Linked DNA regions of Homo sapiens: region 1 is linked to region 2. The links come from fine-mapping of genetic effects on gene expression. A gene starts in region 2. The other region holds a variant in brackets. All regions are shown on one strand. Distances are from middle to middle.

Region 1 (5,387 bases), 73 kb after region 2:
CCATATCTTTGGGGGTCAACTATTGAACTCACTATAAGAGGGGTAACTGAGCCCTAATTGGGGCTGAATAGAAAGCACCCATTAACCTTGTTTGGACCTACCTGTACTTCCTTTTCCTTTTTTCTTTTCCCTGAACACTTGTTCCAGTTTTGTCTATTTCCCGTAGATGGAATGGTCACAGCCAGAGGAACAAGCAAGAAATCACAACCAACAAATCTGCTTATTCCTGGGCTTCAACCTGGCCCACACCTGCAACTGCTTCTTGCTTCAGGGTTTGCTGTGGGCAGTACATAAGCTACTTGACCCAATACTCATGTGAAAGTTTATTCTGCTTGGCCCTCCCAGTTGCCTTGCAGACATCCAGGAGAGTTGGGTATCACTTGGGACCTGGCAGTGTGGGCTTGCCCTGCCAGGCTCTTCAACAGGGTTGCCTTGGTCACGTATTAGATTTCATGCATGGGGCCAAACCAGGAGACCTTGGTGAGCTGGAACAAGAAGGGGCAGTGGATCTGGGTCAGAGCAGGAATTATACTTGTAGTTGGACTGGGCAAATAGGCTCAGAGAAGGAATCTGTGTCAAAAGCTTGGCAGATTGGCAGGAAACCTGAGGCCTGATGCACAAATTAGAATGGATACTAGCTTTCCATCTACACAGGCCAGTTCTTAGTTCTCGTAAGTCTGACTGGGGAGTTCTGTGACATGTGGCATATCATGGATTGCAAGGGCCAACTAAATTCTTTTTTGCTTTCTCTCTGATACAGAGCCTCGCTCTGTCACCCAGGCTGGAATGCAGTGGCACAATCTTGGCTCACTGCAACCTCCGCCTCCGGGATTCAAGCAATTCTCCTACCTCAGCCTCCCGAGTAGCTGGGATTACAGGCACGTGCCACCACACCCGGCTAATGTTTTTGTATTTTTGATAGAGACGGGGTTTCACCATGTTGGCCAGGCTGGTCTTGAACTTCTGGCCTCAAGTGATCTGCCTGCCTTGGCCCCCCAAAGTGCTGGCATTAAAGGCGTGAGCCACCGTGCCTGGCAAGGCTCAACTAAATTTAGCATATATTTATTAAGGATTTGCCATATGCCAGGATCTATAATACAGAGGTCAGACAATCCTTGTCTTCAAGCAGATGAAAGTGTAGCAGCAGATACACACATATAAGAATTAATTGCCATAAAATGTGATAACTATATGTGCACAGTGTTATGAGAGGCCAAAAGTAAGAAATCATTCTGCCTTGGGCTAGGGAATGGGTCATGATGGGAGCACAGAAGAGGCAATATTTGATCTAGATCTTAAAGAATTCAGTAAGGAATGGCTGAGAAGAGCAGCCCAGGAAGCTTGTCCAGCTGACCAAGTGGGTGCCTCTTCTTTTTTGTGTTTATCTCATCCATAACCTAGACCTTCAGTGGAAAGAACAACCTTCATACAATAACTTTTTAAAAAAATAAACATTACAGAGACAGGTATTAAACATATCCGACAAATGAGTCATGCCCATGGAAACAACCAACCACAAAAGACTCCATTTGTAAGGAACTGGCTTAGTGGTTACCAACTTAACATCAGGGGCCCACGGCCATTACTACTATTATTCCTACTGTTATGTACTAGTTTTAGACTTTAGGGTATGATGATGTTTCAATGACTCATTACTATTGAGCATTTCATGTGGCCTATTTGGATGTATTTCTTATTAAAAATGTTTTTCATTTATTTCACATATAATATTGGTGTAAGACACTTATAATTTCAATCTCTAGTAAAGGTAAGAAGGCTACTGCTCATTATTGCCTGCTCCATATATTTGTAATATTTAATGAATCTCTCTTTGAACTTTCTTGGGGGTGTCTTCTAACACAACACCTTTATTTATTTATTTATTTTTAATTATACTTTAAGTTTTAGGGTACAGGTGCACAACGTGCAGGTTTGTTACATATGTATACATGTGCCATGTTGGTGTGCTGCAACCATTAACTCGTCATTTACATTAGGTATATCTCCTAATGCTATCCCTCCCCGCCACCATCCCACAACAGGCCCCGGTGTGTGATGTTCCCTTTCCTGTGTCCATGTGTTCTCATTGTTCAATTCCCACCTATGAGTGAGAACATGTGGAACACAACACCTTTATAATTAGTAGAGATGTTGTTAAATTTGAAAATGATGCATCTTCACAGAGTATTAGTTTTGTTTAATTATTATTCAGTTGCATTTAAGTAATTTAATTGTTTAAGTTTCAAATATAAGGTTTAAATATATTCCAATACTAGAACAAACATAGATACATTACTCAACTTTTGATATACATAGCATATATGTCAGCATTGAATATAAAATTCAAATAGTTTCTAGAATCATACAACAGATCTCTTTTAGATAAGAGAAAAAAAAATAAAGAACATCCAAACTGGAAAGAAGTCAGATTATCCTTGTTTACAGGTAAAATGATCTTAGATTTAGAAAAGAACTAAAGACTCCACCAAAAAACTGTTAGAACTGATAAACAAATTAAGTAAATTTGCGGGATAAAAAACCAAATACAAAAATCAGCAGCAATTCCCATAAGCCAACAGCGAACAATCTGAAAAAAAAAAGAAATCAAGAAAGCAATCCCATTTATAGTAACTACCAGGAAATAAAATACTTAGGAATAAAATGAAGCAAAGGAGAGAAAGAATTTTTTTTTTTTTTTTGAGACAAGAGTTTCACTCTGTCATCCACCTCCTGGTTTCAAGCTATTCTCCTGCTTCAGCCTCCCAAGTAGCCAGGATTACAGGTGCCGGCCACCACACCCAGCTATATTTTGTATTTCTAGTAGAGACAGGGTTTCACCATGTGGCCAGGCTGGTCTTGGACTCTTGACCTCAAGTGATCCACCTGCCTCAGCCTCCCAAAATGCTTG[G/A]GATTACAGGTGTGGGCCACCATGCCTGTCCCAAAGAAGAGAAAGATTTCTACAAGGAAAAAGATAAAGCACTGGTGAAAAAAATTGAAGATGACACACCCCCAAAAATGGAAAGACAGCCCATGTTCATAGATTGGAAGAATTAATACTGTTAAAATGTCCAGACTACCCAAAGTAATCTACAGATGCAATGAAAACCCTATCCAAATACCAATTACATTGTTCATAGAAATAGAAAAAACCATCTTAAAATTCGTATCAATTCTGAATAGCTAAAGCAATCCTAAGCAAAAAGAACAAAGCTGGAGGCATCATACCATCTGATTTCAAAATATACTATAAAGTTACAGTAACCAAAGCAGCATGGTACTGGCATAAAAACAGACACATAAACCAATGGAACAGAATAGAAAGTCCAGAAATAAACTCATGCATTTACAGCCAACAAATTTTCAACAAAGGTGCCAAGAACATACATTGGGGAAATTATTGTCTTATTGATAAATGGTGCTAGGAAAACAGGATATCCATATAGAGAAGAATAAAACTAGACTCCTATCTCTAATCATATACAAAAATCAAAATTAATTAAAAATCTTAAATGTAAGGCCTGAAACTATAAAACTCCTAGCAGGAAACTTTGGGAAAATGTTTCAGAACATTTGTCTGGACAAAGTTTTTTTTTTAGTAAGATCCCAAAAGCATAGGCAGCAAAAGCAAAAATTGATAAATGGGATTACATCAAGCTAAAAGGCTTCTGCATACCAAAAGAAACAATTAACAAAGTGAAAAGACAACCTACAGAATGGTAGAAAACAAATTATCCATCTGACAAGAAATTAATAACCATAATACATAAGGAACACAAACAACTCAATAGCAATAAAACAAATAATCTGATTTTATAATGAGCAAAAGATGTGAATAGACATATCTGACAAGAAGACAACCAAGTGGTCCACAGGTATATGAAAAAATATTCAAAATCACTAGTTGTCAGAGAAAAGCAAATCAAAACCATAATGAGATATCACCTTATCCCAATTGAAATGGTTATAATCAAAAGACAAAAAATAACAAGTGCTGGTGAGAATGCAGAGGAACAGGAACACTTTTACACTATTGGTGGGAATGTAAACTAGTACAACTACAAAAAACAGTAGGGAGATTCCTCAAAAAACTAAAAACAGAATTACCATATGATCCAGCAATCCCACTGCTGAGTATATACCCAAAAGAAAGACAGTCAGTATGTGAAGGAGATATCTGCATTCCCATGTTTATTGCAGCACTATTCACAATAGTCAAGACATGGAATCAGCCTAAGTGTCCATCAACAGATGAATGGATAAAGAAAATGTGCTATATATATGTAATGGAATATTATTTGGCCATGAAAAAGGATGAAATCCTGTCATTTGCAGCAACGTGGATGAAACTGGAAGTTATTAAGTGAAATAAGCCAGGCACATAAATACAAATACTGCATTTTTTCACTCATATATGGTGAAAAATATATGGAGGTAGTAAACAGAATGGTAGTGACCAGAGGCTGGAAAGGGGAGAGGAAAGGGGGATGAAGAGAGGTTGGTTAATAGGTACAATAACACAGTTAAATAAAAGGAGTAACTTCTAGTGTTTTATAGTACAGTAGGGCAACTACAGTTAACAATAACTTATCATAAATTTCAAAATACCTAGAAGATTGGGAATGTTCTGAATGCAAAGAAAAGATAAATATTCGAGGTGACGGATATCCCAATTACCCTGATTTGAGCATTACACATTGTATGATTGTATGAAAATATCCATGTACCCCACAAATATGTGCAACTATTATGTACCAATAAAAAGGGGGAAAACAGGTCTTAAACAATACAAAAGAAGCCAGATACAAAAGGCTTCATACTGTCTGAATCCATTTATATTTTGAAAAAGGCAAAATTACAGGGGTACAAATTAGCTCGGTGGTTGCCAGGGGCTGGGAGTAGAGGAAGGAAATTGACTGCAAAGGAGCATAAGGAAATTTGGGAATGATAAAAAATACCCTTTACCTTCATTGTGATGGTGGTTACATGATTGAATGTATTTGTAAAAATTCAACCAACTATACAATAAAAATTTTACTTATGTAAATTATATCTTAAACCTAACTTTAAGGAAAGTCAGGTTACTCCAGGCTCCCTTTCCAGGCAAATTCACTGCTGCATCCATTTTTTCTGATCTGCTTTTAAGAATACCTAGAAGGAAGAGTTTGAGAATTATTCATTTAATAGCTCTTTAAAAGAGGGGTCTTGGAGTATGATTCTGCATGAGTTAAACCCCAAGATCTTGAACAATTTAAACTTGAACAATAATTTTAGGTGTAGAAGGTATAGGGCACTTTCAAATTGTATAAAATACCAACATGCCTACCCACAATATTTTATAGATACATAATCATTTATTCTAGCACTGTGTAGCTTCTTTACTTGTGAAA
Region 2 (5,387 bases):
GACCCAGGCACCAGTATTTTGAAGATTCCTGGGAGATTCCTAAGCGAACCCTAGGTTGTGAACCCTGGGTTACAGACAATGTGTATAACCTGAGTGACATACTGCTTTCAGAATAGACTATCCCATTAATAAATGATACCAATATTACTATAATATTATTGCTGCTCCTAATCTTCCTTCTGCCAAGAAAGGAAGTACGGTTGTGGGCCTAAAATATCCAAACTGTAAATAACAGAGCACATATAAGTGACATCACTAGGCTCCAAGCTGCTCAGTGAGATAATAACAAGAGTGACTTGAAATAGCCAGTCAGCTGTGAGGACCCCAGTTCTTTAAAATACGTGCATGCCATCTCTCACGTCCCTGCCTCATCCAGCCTGGGTCTATGCCAGTAGAAACTTTTCCAGTTAAAGCCCAGTGCCTTTATTTCCAGTACTGATTGTCACCTGGGAGACAGCTGTCAACTTGTGCAACCCAAGTTACCTTTGCTCTGCAGTAAATAGATGAGTCACAGTTGGTCCTAGCAGGTCAAGGAACAAGCAGCCCTGGGCCATCCTGTCTGGTGGCTGAGGCTGCTGAGACAATGCCCTTGGTGCCTATGAAGGAGTCATAAAGTTGGGCTTGACACTCTTTAAAGTTATCTTAGTTTGCTGATTGTTTGGCTAGAGGGACTGGTGTTGAGCCCTTCCTGGCTGTATTAGGGCTTTGCATGATAAGTGTAATTAGGGTGAGAGGAGGCTGAGCAGGCTTCAGTGTCTGAGGTGGCAATGGGTCAGGCAGAGCAGTGCAGGTCATTGACCTCAGTAGAAAACCCCCAAGCTGCACTTTAGATACCAGGTCCCTTCTTTTTCCAAACTAAAAACGTCCTGGGTGTTGGTAGCAGAAGGGCCGACTATAGGTTAATGTTGCTACTTATCCTGATTTGTGGGGCAGGGAGGGCTAGCTTTAGTTTTAAGCCAAATGTTTAAATGTTTCTCAAATCTATCTACCTCTTTACCTCCAAACCACCCAAGTCTGGGCCAGAATCATTAAAAGATGGTGCACTTGTGCCGACTTGACAGCCACAGCCTCCCACCAGGATCCCCACATTCTCTCCTGCCTCACAGAGCAGCCAAGATGATCCAGCCTCACCTCAGGTCAGACCATTTCACTCCCAGTGTGAAACCCTTCCGTGATTCCTTGATACTTTTGGGATCAAGCCTGACCCTTTGATGTGGTCTCCAAGCCTAGGTCAGCCTGACCATCATCCTCTTACCGCCTGACATTGCTGCAGGTGGGTGGAAGGCCTCGGCTCCTCTCAACTCCAAGCTTCTTTTCCTTTTAGGTATTGGAACCACATTCTTCCACCCACCTGGGGCACTTTCTCAAGCAAAACTCTCAGCCGCCTTCAATTTTGAGCTTAAACTTTACTTCTTTTCTTCCTCCCCCTAGAGTTCCTCACACATGAGCCCCTTGAACTCTGAGTTTGGGATCCTAAAACTTCTTAAGCTTTATTGTTACCCCTTACCTAACCAGAATCTAAGTTCCATGAAGGAGGGACCTCATCCATACTCCCCATGCCAGTGAATACATTTCGAGTAAACCCCAAAAGTATTTGCCAATGATAAGGTAAAAGCAGTGGGTTTCACAAAGGACAATACCATTTGCAGAAGAAGCACCACATAGCAATAAAAACCCAAATGGTTATCCAGATTATGTAAGGGCCACAATCATGGGCAAGGTCCCTATCATGTGTAAGAGACAATGTGAGTTATTTTGTCTATATGAAATATGCCTTTTGTTTGGTAGTTGTCATTTTTTCAAAGAACTTTTTGCTAGGCTATCGAAAAGGTGAACGACTCAGGAGAATGGGCATTATAGTTGACGGTTATTTAGCAACTACAGTGTGCCAGGTCCAACAACCTTATGAAGTAGGTGCAATTATTACTGCCATTTGGTGAATAAGGAAACTGAGATGCCTAGGAAATTAAGTAATTTGCCCAGTGCTATACAGCTGATCGGTTGAAATCGTATCTGAAGCCAGGCACTGCCATTCCCAGGCAGGCACCCATTGTACTGTCTCCCTGTGGAACTGCAGATCACCTTCCAATATTGAGGGTCTTCCACATTTGCCGGAAAATACCATGGGCTGAAGATGTGCAACAGGCTTTACCTCCCTCTCTCAAGAGGTGGAGCTGGTTCATGCCTCAGAACATAAAAGGGTGGGGTTTGATTTCTCATCTTTGTGAATTATTTCTGAAGAGTTTATTGTATAATCAGTGACTAAGTAATTGTGGCCACGAGGAGATACAAAGATGTTTCATTATGGATGGTGTAATATTTAACTTCACGGAAAGGACCCGGGGCTCTGTGGCTTCCCATCCGTCTTGTGACCCGGAATCATGGTGATCTAAAAGAGCCCTGTGACTCTGGGAAATTTGTTATCAAAGGATGTTAGCCACAAGTCCTGTTGGCAAATGGACCCCAGGTGGCCTGCAGTGCCAAGCTGTTTCCCTGCCAGCCTCCCAGTCTGGCCCTGACTCTCCAATGTAAGTGAGGGGCACAATGGAAATGTTATTTTAGGCCTTTCCACTTTAATTGCATTTCCTACAAGAGCGTCTGCGGGTTTTTCTTCATTTTGCTGGTGCCTCCCATATGAGTGGAGATCCACTGAGCAAGGTCATTGACCTACTAATTGTTAAAGGCATGTAGAAGCTCGGAGGGCTCGGTTCTCAACAATATCCTAATTATTATGCATTGGTTAGATGTTCTCTTCCCCATACTGTGTTATTGGGTTCATACTGGCTTCTAGTAGTAAAATCACTTGCTCTCTCTCTTAGCATGGTGACAATTCTGTTGTGATTAACTCTTTCCCAACTTCTTGAACCTGAGAAATATATTATTCTATTACAAGGAGTTCAAAAATCGTATATATATTTTTCTCTTTTATAACACACTTCTATGAAGTATCAGACATTTCATTTGCACTTTCTCATCTAACCTTCGCAACATCCTTATGCATACTTATTATTATTGTGTCCACTTTATAGAGGGGAATATTGAACAGAGGATTTGTTTGTTTTGTTTTATTTTGTTTTTAAGTGACTGACCTATCAAATGTCACACAACTAGTAATTAGCAGACTGGGTTATAAACTCAGGCAACTGGCTTCAAGCTTAACTACTTCATGCTTAACTACTGTACTGTGCTATTCTACTTTACTTCCTTGTATTGTTTTTAACTTGAGAGATTTTTATCCATTATAGTTGAATCCATGACTCTTGTTTGCTTGTTTATAAAAAACATATGGTCCTGAGTAATTAGGATGTATTTCCCAGCATCGTTCAGTTTCCATGACACTTACTCTTCCAACCCCAACACACACACAACTGTGCACAACATACAGTTGAATGCAAACATATAAATGTTGGTGCATTTTCCTTTTTGTGATATAAAATTGTCCTCTTTCTTATACACAATCACCTGACCAATTTTTTCAAGATGATCTAGAACCTATTATTTGTAAGCCACTTTGGAAATTAGGGGGACTTTTCTGAGACAGAAATAGCATCACCAATAAATATGGAATTCCAGGGAAGGTACACATAGGGTCTTAACCCTGGATGGACAGCGCTGATCTCTTCAAACCTTTTTGGAACTGATTTCACTTCACCTTAGAAATCAACCACATAACACATTGGGTTAGATCAATGCATCCTCTGTATCTCTTGGAGCAGCACCAGTGCAGAATTTTCCTTCTAAGATCAATGGCAGGCTGGGAAAATACCCAGACATCGGTACACAATGTGACAAGCAATAAGGAGTGGAGGTAAGAGATCCAGGCCAAGCCTTGGCCTCACCCACGCTTACTGGTCTTATGATCCTAGGCACCTTACAGCTTCTTTGAGTCTTGCTTTTAATTTCTTCACAATGGGCCTGACAATACCTGCTCTCCTTCTAGACTTTTCAAAGGGTGAAACGAGATGACAGCAGAAGCTGCCAGGCATGGTGGTGAGCACACAGCAGGCCCTCACTAAAAGTGGAGTCCAAACCCCACACCTCAGCAAAGCTGGTTTAGGAACACTCCAGGGAATTTCTCAACATTTTTCCTGTAAGGTAATTTCTTAAAATGAGTACATTGCTAGATCTCAGATCCCCAAATTTCCAGAATATAATAGAAATGAAGTTTCAGTCACTTCACAGTGAAACTGCAAAGAAACTAAATGGAAAGTAAGTGATTTGAAGACTGTCAGAGACACAAGGAAGTAGTCTCTTAAGAATCATTTTCTTTCTTCTAGATTTGGATTTGGGAGTAGATTATTTAGATTCTTTTTTAAAGTAATTTAGATAAATTTTGAACAGTTGAACTATTTAAGGTTAAAAAGAGTAAAGATAGATAAAGGTTAACAATAATTTGATAACCGGACAAAAAAGTATAAATCATAGTAACTGTAACAGAACAAAATCCATTTTCCCCACTTAGAAACAGTAACTATTAGGTGGACAGAGCCCAGAGAAAACACTTTAACAGTATTGTTTGCTGAAGAGAATTCCTGTAACTAAATCAAAAATATTATTTTCGTGGGCCCTCTACCAAGGCATAGAAATAATTTTGTTATTACAGGCTCAACTTTCTAGAGATGATTTTGTGAGAGGATTTCACAAATGGTCGTGCTTGCCTTTTAAAGATAAATGGTGATGAATACACTGAGAAATCAACTACAATCTTCAGGGTATGTGTGAGTCTCAGACTCAACACCTTCATGACCTGTTTCCTTTTCCTGTGAGAGTTAGGAATCCCTCCTACGTGTCTGCTATTGCGTAGAGATGAAAATTTACTTTCTGTCATGCTGGGTCGTGGAAGTGGCAGAGGTAGATCTCATCCCTCTTGGTATTCCAGCCATTTGCCTTCTTCCTCTCTCTGCAGAAACGCATTAGTAGACGACTGCTTTCAATATTTGGGCTTCTCAAGAGGCTATTTTTGTTGTTTGTGACTTACAACTCATTAGAAGATGGTGAAAGATAATTCTGTACCTCTGTGGCTATTCAACTCCTTGAGAACTGTTTGCTTATGAAATCAAGCAAGACTGGAGAGGGTGCTCTGTGACAGTGAAAGAAGCCCAGGACAAATAATTTTAATTGGCAGAAGCAGTGCTGACTGGGACCCCAGACAGCCATCTGAGACCACTATAACTTTCCTCACTATTGCCTGTCTCTGTTCTGGTAGATGCTGGGTTGTGTGTTAGATGTTATTTTGCTTTTAGAAAAAAAGAAAAGAGAAAAGCACCTGAAATTATCTCTTCTTGCATTCATTCATTCATTCATGAAATACTGATTGAGTGCATATTGACAGGCAAAGATCTGTGCTAGTAGCCGTAGTGATCAGAGCCAGGCCCAGGGTAAGGCAA

The links. PIP is the estimated chance that this variant, and not a neighbour inherited with it, causes the effect.
Region 1: its variant is the best candidate, but not a certain one, in a credible set for the expression of SMIM2-AS1 in left ventricle (GTEx, PIP 0.77).

The regions. Positions count from the first base shown.
Region 1 is chr13:44,180,624-44,186,010 of GRCh38, forward strand. No RefSeq gene overlaps it. Among named protein-coding and RNA genes, the nearest start is that of MIR8079, 13 kb to the right of the region's middle. The variant G/A (reference allele first, on the strand shown) is at 2,909.
Region 2 is chr13:44,108,085-44,113,471 of GRCh38, forward strand. SMIM2-AS1 (SMIM2 antisense RNA 1) reads left to right here and starts at 2,465. Exons shown (of 5, transcript NR_104065.1): 1 at 2,465-2,528. All of the region lies in intron 2 of LINC00390 (long intergenic non-protein coding RNA 390), which reads right to left.